3 separate regions of the Homo sapiens genome follow, and all the other regions are linked to region 2. Evidence: fine-mapped expression QTL. A gene starts in region 2. Each other region holds a variant in brackets. All regions are shown on one strand. Distances are from middle to middle.

The links. PIP is the estimated chance that this variant, and not a neighbour inherited with it, causes the effect. A credible set is the group of variants that fine-mapping cannot tell apart.
Region 1: its variant is the best candidate, but not a certain one, in a credible set for the expression of TBL1X in subcutaneous fat (GTEx, PIP 0.58).
Region 3: its variant is the best candidate, but not a certain one, in a credible set for the expression of TBL1X in fibroblasts (GTEx, PIP 0.72).

Annotation. Positions count from the first base shown.
Region 1 is chrX:9,503,844-9,506,605 of GRCh38, forward strand. All of the region lies in intron 2 of TBL1X (transducin beta like 1 X-linked), which reads left to right. Among named protein-coding and RNA genes, the nearest start is that of TBL1X, 40 kb to the left of the region's middle. RefSeq lists an enhancer at 1-258. The variant G/A (reference allele first, on the strand shown) is at 1,722.
Region 2 is chrX:9,463,718-9,466,479 of GRCh38, forward strand. It overlaps TBL1X (transducin beta like 1 X-linked), which reads left to right and starts at 1,341. Exons shown (of 18, transcript NM_005647.4): 1 at 1,341-1,730. RefSeq lists enhancers at 1-769, 597-796 and silencers at 1,027-1,606, 1,727-1,866, 2,167-2,316.
Region 3 is chrX:9,561,769-9,564,530 of GRCh38, forward strand. The region is part of intron 2 of TBL1X (transducin beta like 1 X-linked); the gene reads left to right. Among named protein-coding and RNA genes, the nearest start is that of TBL1X, 98 kb to the left of the region's middle. The variant C/T (reference allele first, on the strand shown) is at 1,234.

The sequences.
Region 1 (2,762 bases), 40 kb after region 2:
ATTTAGCTTTTCCTCCTGGTAGTTCCAAGGAATCTGGACAGCCCAGATGAGTGGGTTTCCCCCAAGCAAAACACACCCTCTCCACCAAGGGACAGAGTGCTCCATTAAACGGGTCCTGCTCCCTGTGTCACCCAACTGGGTGAGACCCTTCAACAGGGCTTGTCAGATACCCTCTGCAGGAGTGATCCTACTGGCATCAGGTTGGTGCCCCTTGAGGTCAGAGGTCCCAGAAGAAGGAGTAGGCACCCATCTTTGCTGCTCTCCAGCATCCTTAATGACATCTCCAGGCATGGGAGCGAATCAGATGAATAAGGCCTGAAGGTGAACCACCAGCAAACTGCAGCAGCCCTACAGAAGAGGGACTGGACTACTGAAAGAAAAACAAGCAGAAAGTGACAACAACAGCATCAACAACAACAATCAAATAAAAGGTCCCCACAAAAATCTCATCCAAGGGTAGCAGCCTCAAAGACTGAAACTAGACAAACTCATGAAGATGAGAAAGAATGAAAAAATGCTGAAAACCCAAAAGGCCAGAGTACCTCTTCTCCTCCAAATGATTACAACATCTCTCCATCAAGGGCACAGAACTGGACGGAGGATCAGATGGATGAATTGACAGAAGTAGGCTTCAGAAGATGGGTTATAAAAAACTACAATGAGCTAAAGGAGCATGTTCTAACCTAATTCAAAGAAGCTAAGAACCTTGATAAAAGGTTAGAGGAATTGCTAACTAGAATAACCAGTTTAGAGAGGAACATAAGCAACCTGATGGAGCTGAAAAACACAGCACGAGAACTTTGTGAAGCACACACAAGTATCGTGAAGCATAAACAAGTATCAACAGCTGAATCGACCAAGTAGGAGAAAGGATATCAGAGTTTGAAGACCACCTTACTGAAATAAGACATGCAGACAAGAATAGAGAAAAAAGAATGAACAAAGCCTACCAGAAATATGGGACCTCATAAAAAGACTGAACCTACGATTGAGTGGAGTACCAGAAGGAGGTGGGGAGAATGGAAACAAGCTGGAAAACACACTTCAGGGTATTATCCAGGAGAACTTCCCCAGACTACCAAGACAGGCCAACCTGCAAATTCAGGAAATACTGGGAACACCATTAAGATACTCTATGAGACGATCAACCCCAAGACACATAATCATCAGATTTTCCAAGGTCGAAATGAAGGATAAAACTAAGGGCAGCCAGAGAGAAAGGCTAGGTCACCTACAAAGGGAAGCCCATCAGACTGACAATGGACTTCTCAGCAGAAACTCTACAAGCCAGAAGAGATTGGGGGCCAATATTCAACATTCTTAAAGAAAAGAATTTTCAACCCAGAATTTTATATCTAGCCAAACTAAGCTTTCTATAAAATCCTTTCCAGACAAGCAAATGCTGAGGGATTTTGTTACCACTAGGCCTGCCCTGCAATGTCTCCTGAAAGAAGCACTAAATATGGTAAGGAAAAACTGGTACTAGCCACTGCAAAAACACATGAAAATATAAAGACCAATGACACTACAAAGAAACTGCATCAACTAATGTACAAAATAACCAAATAGCATCATGATGACAGGATCAAATTCACACATAACAATATTAACCTTAAATGTAAATGGGCTAAATGCCCCAATTAAAAGACACAGACTAGCAAATTGGATAAGGAGTCAAGACTCATTGGTGTGCTGTATTCAGGAGACCCATCTTACATGCA[G/A]AGACACACACAGGCTCAAAATAAAGGGATGGAGGAAAATTTACCAAGCAAATGGAAAGCAAAGAAAAAAAGCAGGAGTTGCAATCCTAGTCTCTGACAAAACAGACTTTAAACCAGCAAAAATAAAAACAGACAAAGAAGGGCATTACATAATGGTAAAGGGAACAATTCAACAAGAAGAACTAACTATTCTAAATGTATATATATGCACCCAATACAGGAGCACCCAGATTCATAAAATAAGTTCTTAGAGACCTGCAAAGAGACTTAGACTCCCACACAATAATAGGGGGAGACTTTAACACCCCACTGTCAGTATTAGGTCAGTGAGACAGAAAATTAACAAGGATATTCAGGACTCGAACTCAGATCTGGATCAAGTGGACTTAGTAGAAGTCTACAGAACTCTCTACCCCAAATCAACAGAATATACATTCTTCTCAGTGCCACATGGCACTTATTCTAAAATCAACCACACAATTGGAAGTAAAACACTCCTCAGCAAATGGAAAAGAACTGAAATCATGACAGACAGTCTCTCAGACCACAGTGCAATCACATTAGAACTCAGGATTAAGAAACTCATTCAAAACCACATAATTTCGTGGAAATTGAACAACTTGCTCCTGGATGACTCCTGGGTAAATAATGACATTAAGGCAGAAATCTAGTATTTCTTTGAAACCAATGAGAACAAAGAGATAATGTACCAGAATTTCTGGGACACAGCTAAAGCAGTGTTAATAGGGAAATTTTGCACTAAATGCCCACATCAGAAAGCTAAAAAGATCTCAAATCAGCACCCTAACATCACAATTAAAAGAGCTAGAGAGGCAAGAGCAAACTAATCCAAAAGCTGGCGGAAGGTAAGAAATAACTAATATCAGAGAAGAATCGAAGGCGATAGAGACGCAAAAAAGCCCTCCAAAAAATCATTGAATCCAGGAGCTGGTTTTTTGAAAAAATTAACAAAATAGATAGACTGCTAGCTAGACTAATAGAGAAGAATCAAATAGACAATAAAAAATGATAAAGGGGATA
Region 2 (2,762 bases):
CCGTCTCTACTAAAAATACAAAAAAAATTAGCTGGGCGTGGTGGCATGCGCCTGTAATCCCAGCTACTCGGGAGGCTGAGGCAGGGGAATTGCTTGAACCAGGGTGGTGGAGGTTGCAATGAGCCGACAGCGCGCCACTGCACTCCAGCTTGGGCGACAGAGCGAGACTCCTCAGAAAAACAAAAACAAAAACAAAAAAACAAAAACCTCACCTTAGGTCCCCCTCCCCCTACAACCAGAACAACAAATGGTCTAGAGTTCGAGGAAGAGCAAGTGAGGTTATAGTTTAGATTGCTGAGTGTACCGGGCTCTTAGCACGAAGCTCATTATATAGTAAAGGAAGGGGCAAGAATATTTGAAAAATATTCAACGAGGCTGACCCCAGAGGTGCTGGGGAGGGGGAGTGGAGATCTGTTTAACTGAATTAAGGCTGCGAGTGGTTGGGAGTAGCCTACGTGGAGGGGAGGAAGGAGCGCTGGGGACTTAGGTACACCGGGGCCAGGCCGTGTAAGCCATTGCAACATAAAGCACTTTGCAAGGGCCAGAGGGCTGATGCCTGGGGGGTTGGGGTGGGAGTGATGAGGCCCGAGTGCCCAGGTCCCCCCAACCTCCTCAGCCCCCACACCCGAGTTCCTGGCGCCTATGCCTGTGTGTCTGAGTTTGTCCCTAAGCATTTCTGGCTCTTCTTGGGAGGTGTTTTGCAAAGGTCGAGGCTCCGCCGGAACCCCCACTTTTTGAGCTGGGGTAAAGACTACTGGGGTGTCTTCTAAGACGCCGATTTTGAGGGAGATTCACCATCGGGCAGGTGGCAGGGGGTTCTGTTGGGGCAGCCGGGTGGCTTCCTTTTTGGGGTGGGGGAGGGTAACACTTTAGCAGTGATCGAGGTTCCCCTGCCCCCTAGAAACTGAGGGGGTGGCCGAGGTTCCCGTCCCCTCGAGGCAGTCGTGGAAAGGCTGGGTTTGGGATGTGATGGGGGTAGCCCTGGGGTCCTCTCAGTCCCACGGAGGCCACGGGGAAGGGACCGGGACCAGAGCAACTAGGGAGAGGCCCGGGTTCCCCTCACCCACCCTAGGCGTGGGGGAGCGGGGCGGGCTTGGTAGGGACGCTGGTCCCCCGACCGTGGGACAGGGGCTGGGTTGGGACGCGGGTCCCCACTAGGAGCCGCGGGGGAGGGGCAGGGCCGGAGTCCCTACCCTCGTAGGGGAGGGGCTGGTTCGGGACGCGGCTCCCCCGGGGCGCAGGGGCGGGGCCGGGTGGTACGCCGGGTCCCCTCCCACGGCCGTGAGGGAGGGGCCGGCGGCGGGGGCGGACCCCTGGCGGTCCTCCTGGCTGGGGTCCGCGCGCTCGCGGCAGCTCCCCGTGGAGGTCACTGTCCGTGCCAGTCCCTCCCGCTGTCCCGCCCTCTCCCGCTGCCGCCGCCGCCGCCGCCGCGCCCGCCTCAGCGCCCCCACTCCGCGCTTGGGAGCGAGGAGCCGCCAGCGCCCCCGCCCCGCCGCCGCCGCAGCGCCCTCAGGCCGCCATTCGCCACCGAAACTTTCCAGCGCCCGCGCTCTCTCCGGGACTCGGCGGCGGCGGGGCGGGGGCGGCCCGGGGGCGGCGCGCGGCTGCTCCGGGGCGCCGGGCCCTCTTCGGCCGCCGCACGGCCGGGACTCGGAGGCTGCCGGCTGGAGGGAGGTTCGGAGCGCGGCCGGGCGCGCGGCGCCGCCACAAGTTGCGCTGCTCGCGACGAGGTGAGTGCGCAGGGCTCGGCGGGCCGGGCGCGGGGTCCGCAAACTTCTGCGGGGAGGCGGGTCCCGCGCTGACCCTCCAGGGTCCGGCCGGCGGCTCGGGGCGCCCGAACGCTCCACCCGCCCCTGGAACTCCTGTAGGTGCAGGTCGCCAACTGTCCCCGCGGCGCTCGGACTGGGGTGCGGCGCGCTCCCAGGAGCCTGAACAATACCCCGAGGTGGCCGCTCCCCGAAGTGCCGGCGCGCCTTGCGGGGAGAGACGGAGGTCGGCGGGGGGCTCCTTTGTTTTGGGGAGGGGGAAGTGGCCGGTAAGTTTAGGGAAGCGCTCGGCTTTTCCTCCGGTGCCCCTTTGTCTGCCGATTCAGGGGCTTGCTGGGCAAACCTGCGCCACCGCGGGCTCCGGGGACCGGGGTGGAGGGCGGTGGCGGGATTTCCCCGCTGTTGGGGAGAAGAGCCCCATTCATACCCGGGACGCGGGCCGGCCCTCCCGGACCCGGGTGGAAGCGCAGCCTCGCGGAGTGGGGCAAGCGGCGGGCGAGGTGGCGCGGGCCCCGTGTCTGCTCAGTTTCTGACGCGCAGAAACTGTCAAGGAAGTCGGGAGCCCCAGTCCTCCGCCCATCTCCCCGGCCTGAGCGCACGGCTGGGCTGGGGGCACCCTTGGCCCGTCGAGGGTCTGCAGAGCGCCGCCCGGGGAGAGCGCAGACCTGTTGCTGCTCCTGGGCTCTGACGGGGCGGGTGGGGTGGGTCTCGCAGATCCTGGGCCCCGGCCTTGCTATCCAGGGGGACCTTCCCTAACGATGGGACCGGTGCTCGGAGTGGAGTATGGGGAGTGCGCCTTCGGGAGTCGGCGCTGGCCGGATATGTGACAACTGTGGGTCGCTGGAGGCCCGCCTGCGCTGGGATAGGGCCTGGACTTCACGTGCGTCGCCTGTGTTCCGTCAGACCGGGGCCGGGGCTCGCTCCCTGCAAGGCCTCGTGTTCCCCCAGCCAGCTGCGTTGGACGTTCCACAAAGGTAGGGACTGACGTTTATTCTC
Region 3 (2,762 bases), 98 kb after region 2:
AGGTTTTCAGATACTTATGTAAGTGAATAGTTGAATTTGTTTGAGCATATTTAATTGCTTTCCTGAAGGGATTTGCTGGCTGTTTTGTTAAATGAAATTGAAGACAGTACTGTTGACCTTTCCAGGTGAGGAGGGAGTCAGAAGTGTTTTGCAAATGATGGAAACTGAAACGTGAGTACCAGGACCATATGATGTTCAGAAACTTTTATCATAACTACAGTGAATAAATAAAGTGCTTGACAATTAGATTTAAAATTAAGCTTCATCCTCATTGCAAAATGTGGAGACAGTGCTTTGGGACATGAGGAAGAGATTAATTAGGATTCTTTTCTACCTCAAGATGCGCTATGTCATCTCTGAACAAAAAACTGATTGGTATTACGTGAGGATTATCTTCATAAAGTTCAGAGTTGTATCTACGGGGACAGATTTGAATTGCTGTTAATTGACAATTTGCTGAATTGGAAAGATCATATTACCTTAATACTTTAATGTATCATCTTTAAATGTGATTCTTTTTCTTTCTCTCACTAAAGATTAGTTTCATGCCACTAAATAAAATTTAATCTTTTGCTGTAATTTAAATAATAATAAGTGCTTACAAACATATTATGCAGCTGATAGCTTGTTAAAATTTCCTGTGGGCTTGTTTTTTGTTTAGAAGTACTGATTTTGCCAGTTGTACAAGCATGAAATATTGTTTATCAAGCCTCATAAGACATTAAAGAGGAAATCAAGTTTGTGTGACTTTAATGTCTCTTTTTCTCCTTATTTCAGTGGCTCATACTTTTACCCTGAACTTGTAAAATCTACAAGCTTAATAAGATTCCATATTTTATAGGAACTAATGGATATTCAATGACTTGCCTGAAGAGTAGACTAAGAAAATGTATTTCTCCATGAATCTTTACATAGAAAAATGAAAGATTTTTCCTGAATATTTATTTCTCAATATATACAGCATTAATATGTCTGTTTTTCTTCAAAGCAGAAAAAAAAAAAATCAGTGATTGCCTTTGGGTTTTGATCTTGCTCTGTATTTGTTTTAAGTACACACCTATTACATGCCCACTGTATTCTAGGCACTAAGCTCTAATGAAAAGTGGTTTCCAGTCATTCGAATGGAACAGGAGGCTCATGTACTTTGAAGTGGGTATACAGAACTTTTGCACTTTGGTTTTATTCTACTTTCTGTCTATGTCCTTGGCACTAGAATGCTTGGACGACAGTTTG[C/T]TATATCTGTGGTATTTATGGAATGAGTGAAACATGCAAGGAGAATGCCCTGGCTGCCGTTCTGGCTTCTGCCCTACCCAGAGCATCCAGTATACAGAAGCAGCGTTTCTTACCACAGCTTGCGGAAAGACACGGGGAGTAGTCGGCTTGCCATATAAGGAAGTTGCCTTCAGTGGCCTTGTTCATTTTAGGTGTTTTTTAATACTTGCTTCTCTTATAATACATGTTACTGTTCCGTGAGGAACCTCAGCAGCTCCCCTAAGGGGAAAAAAGGAGGAGTACTTGAAGGAGTACTGTTTATACTTCAGGGGCAATAAAATCCATGTTTATGCACAAAGGGACCTTTCCACTTGTGTGATAACCATTCTACAAGGCCCTTGAGTTCCTGTGAGGAAGGAAGGACGCCATAAGGAATGAAATCACAGAACCTTATTATGAAAATAGTAATGGTGGGATTTGGAAATTATACTCAATTTTTTCTTCTGAAAACAAATTGAATACCACCTGAGAGTTGGTGCTAAAGGCCCTGATTTTCGTATTTTAAAAAATTTTTGGCATAGTCTTTGGATTTGTGCTGTCCTAATATGGTAGCCACCAGCTGTACATGAGTATTTAAGCTTAACTAAGATTAAGTAAAATGTAAAATTCAGTTTGTCTCACACTAGCCACATTTTGAGTGCTCAGTAGCCACATGTGGCCAGTGGATACCTTATTAGACAAGGAAGATGTAGTGCAGAAAGTTTTATTGGACAGAAGAACAATGGTTATTCAGATATTTCCCTATTGGGAATTCCAGGGAAGAAAGGGAAAACTTAAATCTGAAGAAGAAAAATTTTATACCAAGGGACTAGGGGGCAATGCAGAAAAATTAACCACATCAAAACAATTTACTACATCAAAGTTCATTGTCATGACATATTAGAACATTAGCATAAAGGAAGTATCTATGCACTTCCCGGATTTAAAAAAGAGTCACACGAAGGATCTTGGAATCAGAATGACATTGTATTTCTTAACAGCAACACGTGAAGTTAGAAAACAGACTGAACATAGACTTCTTTGAAAATAATTTTCCCTCAGAATTTTGAAGGTGTTCCTCCACTAATTATTAATTAAGGATAGAATAAAGATGTTTGGGCCGGGCGTGGTGGCTCATGCCTGTAATCCCAGCACTTTGGGAGTCTAAGGCAGGTGGATCACTTGAGGTCAGGAGTTCAAGACCAGCCTGGCCAACACGGTGAAACCTCGTCTCTACTGAAAATACTTTCACATGTCACTTCTAGGAAACTTATGGAGAATATGTCCCACCAAAGTGAGGGAGTAAACCAAGAAAGGGGGAGGTTTGGGATCTTGGAAACAGAAAGAGGCAGAAGGAATTCTCAAACAAAGGTGTTTTCAGGGCAGTGGCTCTTGTAGTACAGACTAGAGCAGGAGACAAATTTTAGGAGGAGGCCAGGCGAGATGGCTCACTCCTGTAATCCCAGCACTTTGGGGGGGCCCAGGTGGACAGATCACAAGGTCAAGAGATT